2 linked regions of the Homo sapiens genome follow. The protein of the gene in region 1 purifies or fractionates together with the protein of each later gene. This does not show direct contact. Each region holds a gene or a part of one and is shown on either strand. Other genes may lie near its edges. The genes, in order: OR5L1 and ANKLE2.

Region 1 (3,267 bases):
CACTTTTGACAAAGAATCACCGCTCTATGTGCAATTAACAGCTTGATTTTTTTTTTCTTTAGATTTGAAAGCAGGAAAGGGCTTTCAAAAGTGTGTATTAGTTTGAACTCAGGGGAAGATACACAACTCACCTCTCCTGGTCATTTTAAGAGAAAACACCATATTATCAAAACAATTTTTTTAAATTTTCAACCTGGCATTTAGCAATATGCATGCTGCATATCTTTGAAATCAGTTGAAGAATGGGAAAAATGTCTGGTTGTGTTGGTCTCTAGTCCAGATTTTTTTCTTGCAGGAGTGCTTGACTGGTGCTTCTACAATGATGTATGAACGTATCAAGGGTCAGGAAGAGAAAGAATGACAAGATTCTCACCCTCACTTTACGTTTGCTGTGTGTCAAAGGTCTAAAAAGTATGTGTCCCTAATTTTAAAAATTCCAACGTCTTTCCCCATTTCACTCACTAATAATGATGTTTTGGGAGAAGTAAGACAAGTTAACAGATTTTTTAAAATAAATATTTATGTTCATGGATGTTGTAAGGATTAAATATACGATTGTGTGTGGCATAAATATATGTATTTATATTATACATTATTATATACTATTTTTTCTCTACATTCTGGCTGTTTTTAAGTATTTTATCCCTTTTCACAGTCATTTATTGATATCATTAAGATGATTTAAAGTTATCCTTTATATGACTGCATGCTTTTATATTATATACACTACAAATGTGATCATCTTTCTCTTATTTGATATTTTATTTCTAAGTTTTAATATTACAAACAATACTGCAATGCAGCAGTGGGAAGTTTTCTTAGTAATTTCCCATGCACATCTTTGATCAGGTCTTCAAATAGATTGAAAGCAGTAAATTTATTTAAGACATAATTTTTTAAGACTGTGGAGTCATACTTACAGTAAGTTGTCCCCAAGAGTACCAATTCCCTAAACCATGGCTGACATTGAAAAATGTAATTAACCAAATCACCATACTAATTTTACAGAGAAAATACTAATACAGATTATAAAATGAGTTTCTTCATCTAAAATATATCAATAAAATGCAAACACTTGACTGCTAACATCTTAAATAAGTGTATTTCTCATCACTGTAATGAAAAATTCAGAGAGAGGTGCCGTAGATTCTAAACATTATTTTCTAGGATCCCAATATTTGGAGTTGGCTAAGAAAATGGGATTTGAATTTGAAAGAGTAAGGAGGCTAATTAAATAGTAAGTTGACCTCATTCCCAATGATTCAGTGAAAAGCTGTCAATTCTCAAAGACTAATTAAAAGAACAATATAAATTCATATATACGTTAATATTTTTGTTTGATCTTTGAATTAAACTAAGTTTATGCATTTGTGTTATACAAAGTTGAACTTTTTAAAATTTCACAAAAAGTTTTATTCTTTGCTGATAAGATAAACTATCCTACTTTTTCTGGTGTCTTTTTACAGGATACAGCCAAAACTAAAATTTAGACTATATAATGGAGAATAATTTTTAAGTTTCTTTTCCTCCAATCTCATATAAATTGGAGACATGGGCAAGGAAAACTGCACCACTGTGGCTGAGTTCATTCTCCTTGGACTATCAGATGTCCCTGAGTTGAGAGTCTGCCTCTTCCTGCTGTTCCTTCTCATCTATGGAGTCACGTTGTTAGCCAACCTGGGCATGATTGCACTGATTCAGGTCAGCTCTCGGCTCCACACCCCCATGTACTTTTTCCTCAGCCACTTGTCCTCTGTAGATTTCTGCTACTCCTCAATAATTGTGCCAAAAATGTTGGCTAATATCTTTAACAAGGACAAAGCCATCTCCTTCCTAGGGTGCATGGTGCAATTCTACTTGTTTTGCACTTGTGTGGTCACTGAGGTCTTCCTGCTGGCCGTGATGGCCTATGACCGCTTTGTGGCCATCTGTAACCCTTTGCTATACACAGTCACCATGTCTTGGAAGGTGCGTGTGGAGCTGGCTTCTTGCTGCTACTTCTGTGGGACGGTGTGTTCTCTGATTCATTTGTGCTTAGCTCTTAGGATCCCCTTCTATAGATCTAATGTGATTAACCACTTTTTCTGTGATCTACCTCCTGTCTTAAGTCTTGCTTGCTCTGATATCACTGTGAATGAGACACTGCTGTTCCTGGTGGCCACTTTGAATGAGAGTGTTACCATCATGATCATCCTCACCTCCTACCTGCTAATTCTCACCACCATCCTGAAGATGGGCTCTGCAGAGGGCAGGCACAAAGCCTTCTCCACCTGTGCTTCCCACCTCACAGCTATCACTGTCTTCCATGGAACAGTCCTTTCCATTTATTGCAGGCCCAGTTCAGGCAATAGTGGAGATGCTGACAAAGTGGCCACCGTGTTCTACACAGTCGTGATTCCTATGCTGAACTCTGTGATCTACAGCCTGAGAAATAAAGATGTGAAAGAAGCTCTCAGAAAAGTGATGGGCTCCAAAATTCACTCCTAGGGAAGATTTTATTAGCACAATTCAGGATTCCCAAGTAGTGGCAGGCGGGGGTTCACGGGAGAGGCACAGTGTTGGAGTACAGAGAAGAAGGAGCTCAGTAGTTATAAGCGAGTCTTTTTTGATTCACTTATCTTTGTGCTTCTTAAACTTTAAGGAGTAGGATTGAACATATTTCAAAATTTGCTGCCAACTTTTAAAAAATAAATACATAATGTTTAAATGGATATGAGCAATAGTATTATTAAGATAGACAAGTTTTGCTTTCTCTAAAACCATTACAAGTCTTCTAATGAAGAACTTACAAGGGTTACAATTTATTTCAGGATCCATTATGGAAACTACGATTCTTTTCAAAACAAAGTTTTCATTATTTTGTATTGATGATTACATTGTCATTGAAGTTTGTAGAATTTCATATATATATGGATTATATGTATATATGGAATATATATGTGTGGAATACATATGGAATATTTATATATTCCATATATATGTATAATGTGTATATATTTATCAGTTTTTGACATTTTAAAATTCTTTATTATTTTCTTGCTGTTGTTTTAGTTTCCAGTGTCATTGGAACTTTGGATAATATGTTATATGATAGATGAAAAACATAATAATTTCACAGGACTCTAGGAAAATTGAATTTAAAAAGCTGGAATCACTTACAAGGAGCTTAGAATAATCCCTGAAACATAATAAGTAGTTCTCTCTTTTTCTCTCTGTCTATGCTATATACATATATATTATATATACATAAACATGTGCATATAATAA
Region 2 (3,243 bases), on another chromosome or scaffold:
TTGCTTCTTTTATTGTGCTTTCTAGAGAGGAGCCATCAAAACTCGATCAGGATGTTTTGGCCGCTCTTGAATGTGCAGACGTCGACCCCCATCAGTTCCCGGCCGTGCACAGATGGAAGAGTGCTGTCCTGTGCTACTCACCCTCGGACAGACAGAGGTATGTGGGGCCCGGACAGCCTGTCACCCGCAGGGCAGCTTTTGGAAACTTCTGCAGGGTCCAGTTCCACTTCATGCGAACCTATCAGTGGCTTTTCCCAACGCTGGCAGGCCCGTCAGCCAGGCTGTGGATTTGGGTGTTGTGGCTCTCTGCACACAGGACAGAGCTCTGGTTGGGTGGAAAAGCTGAACGGGTCAGCTCCTGACAAGCTGAGGGCTAGAAGGGTGGAAGCAGCAGGGTTTCTACTCAGATCACACAGGATTCTCCGGGAAACCCCCATGAGCTTGACTCTCCCAGTGCCCGCGGTGCCAGGGTTCAGCAGTGCCTCTCCTCCACCCAGACGCATGTGCCCACGGTGCCAGGGTTCAGCAGTGTGTCTCCTCCGCCCGGGCGCGTGTGCCCGCGGTGCCAGGGTTCAGCAGTGCGTCTCTTCCACCCGGGCGTGTGTGCCCGCGGTGCCAGGGTTCACCAGTGCCTCTCCTCCGCCCGGGCGCATGTGCCTGAGTCTGGGGCCATTATTCTCCGACTTTTGCTGTTCATCTCCGGGCCTGTGCCCGTCTGCTAACAGTTCTTTCTTGCTTTCCGCAGTTGGCCCAGTCCCGCGGTGAAAGGAAGGTTCAAGTCTCAGCTGCCAGATCTCAGTGGCCCTCACAGCTACAGTCCGGGGAGAAACAGCGTGGCTGGAAGCAACCCCGCAAAGCCAGGCCTGGGCAGTCCTGGGCGCTACAGCCCCGTGCACGGGAGCCAGCTCCGCAGGATGGCGCGCCTGGCTGAGCTTGCCGCCCTGTAGGCTTGGCGCTGGGCTCTCGGTTTGTTCTTCATTTTTAAAGAAGGAAGGGTCATATGTTTATTGCTAAACTGTCAAAAAGGAATATATTCTGATTAAATTATTACTCCTCACTTTGAGGGTGTGAGAATTTTAGAAGATTTAAATGTTCTATATAACACTTAGATTTCTGATATTTTGGAAGAAGTTAGAAGTTAATGAAAGCAAACTCAGTTACCAATTTTCTGGAAAATATCCATGTGGTAATGGTAGACTTTTTAGGTGGCAATTTCTAGGTCTGAAATATAGCAGAGGAAAGGGCGCTGAGGCAGTTGCAGGCAGGCAGCCCTGTACTTACCCTGTACTCACCTCATCCGACAGACGCTGTGGATGAGGAGGGGCTTGGCGGAGGCGTGAGCACCGATGTCCCTTTGATAACCTGCACTCACCAAGATGAACTATTTGCCGCCCTGTCTTTTCCTGGGTTGGGGGGTGGCATCTGATGGTGGCAGAGTGCCTGTTGGTTCGCCCGTGGGTCTCATGGTTCAGACAGAGGGAGGTGGACGGCAGGGATCAGGGAGCCAGGAGCGCGCCTCAGACTTGCAGCAACCATTGTGATTTGGGTTGTTCGGAATATTTAAATTACTGATCAGAAGATGAAAGTAGCTTTTCTCTTGGGAAGTCTTGCAGCCCGTGGGAGTGATACCAGGAGCAACACAGAGCTCAGCAGCGGCGCCAAGGTGTTCCCTGTTTCCTCAGCACGTGAGCCTTCACCGCCTGCTTCATTCAGGAGCCAGTGCAGCAGTAATACAGTCTATACATTGTTCTGTTTTCAAATTTATCCTGAGGCTTTGTTGAGCATAAATGATTATACGATAAAGGTATCCGTTATTTTGGAACTCATTTCAGTTGGGATCTCCTGTATGCAGAGTGTTGCATTTAGAGGTTTGAGTCCCATCTTGGTTTCTTGCCGTGCTGACTGTAGCCTTCACCTTGACTTGAATGAAGGTCTGTGGTTGGAATGTGTGAGGAGCCGCTGAGGTGTTCAGGAGGTGCTGCCTGGAGGTCGGTTTCTTCCTGGGTGTTACGGGCAACTGCTCACACAGTTGTTTCTCTGTGAACATTTCCAGTGTTTAATCCAAAATGAAAACCCACCAATGCTTTTGCTAACTTCAGTGCCTTTTATAAATCATTTTTAAATTTCCTGAACTTGCTTTTTGAGGATATACAGGGATATTAAGTAGACGCAGGATTGTTTTTGTTTGTAAAAATTCTGAATTGAAACTTTGTTTTAAAAAAAGGCTTCTTTCTTTCATATGACAAGAGATAGGTCAGGAATATTGGAATCAAGATTTAAATGTTAAAATTCGATTTTGTTACACAGGGTGTGTTCATTTGTTTTGTAGCAGACAAGATCTAGATCCCAGACAGAAACAACACATGCTATTCTAAAAAGCCGCATTTTAAAAGGCACCTTGGTTCTCAAAAGAAATCAGAATATGGATATTCGTAGTGATGATCTGTTTTCTCTAAAATCTTACCATATTGTCTGTATATGGTTGTAAATTCAAATGGAAAGTAAAACGTTTTGGCCCTGATTTTGTATGTGGACCACTGCTCCTGATTTCCCAGGTCTTAGGCCACCTTTGACTGTTTCTCCGTTTGTTTGTGGGCAGCGATTCCAGTCCCAACGGAGGCATTCTCGTGTGTCCCGGGGGGTTATGTCCTTCACAAAACACTTAATGAAATGAATTACTTCAAAACCGCGTGGTAATAATTGCAAGCTTTCGGAAGGATCCCTCACTTGTGCCCAGGCGCACGGCACTGTTTTGGTTGGACGGCCATCAACCTGGGTGCCCTCAGATTCGCTCGCTGTTTTTAAGCCCCTTTCTTGACTCAGTTGTGAAAGATTTTCTGGCATCCGTTAAAAGAGCACAGATTTTACCGTTGCTCTTGGCAGTGGGAAACCTTGGTGACATTAACAGTTGCTGTGGTGGCTTTGGTTGGAAAGTGCCCTTCTCCAGCGTGGTGGCAGCTGTGAGGGAGGCGCCCGGTGAGTCTGCTGCTCGTTTCTGGGTAAAAGCAGCCATGGTGCTGCGTACCAGCCGTGGGAGTGCCAGCGGCGCCATGGCAGGGACCACAGCCAGGTCCTCCAGAGCCGTGTGGATGTTTCCAGAAGCCTGCAGAGTTTTCCCAGGGAAGGGCTGATGGAAACCCTCATTGGGGCCCGGCTGTGCGTGCGGGGTGCAGGCGTGTTTGTCGTGGTTGGAAACCCTGTGACTGCTCCAGCTGCAGATTCCCGCCCGTGCTCCCTCCTTAG

The links.
Region 2: the proteins of OR5L1 (region 1) and ANKLE2 purify together in Homo sapiens (affinity purification with mass spectrometry; one large-scale study listed by BioGRID and IntAct). This does not show direct contact.

Annotation. Positions count from the first base shown.
Region 1 is NC_000011.10:55,809,916-55,813,182, forward strand, and holds OR5L1 (olfactory receptor 5L1), read left to right. Parts: upstream 1-1,451; 5' UTR 1,452-1,551; coding exon 1,552-2,487; 3' UTR 2,488-2,561; downstream 2,562-3,267. UniProt on the Homo sapiens protein: Odorant receptor.
Region 2 is NC_000012.12:132,724,946-132,728,188, reverse strand, and holds the end of ANKLE2 (ankyrin repeat and LEM domain-containing protein 2), read left to right. Parts: intron 1-25; coding exon 26-157; intron 158-745; coding exon 746-947; 3' UTR 948-2,686; downstream 2,687-3,243. UniProt on the Homo sapiens protein: Involved in mitotic nuclear envelope reassembly by promoting dephosphorylation of BAF/BANF1 during mitotic exit.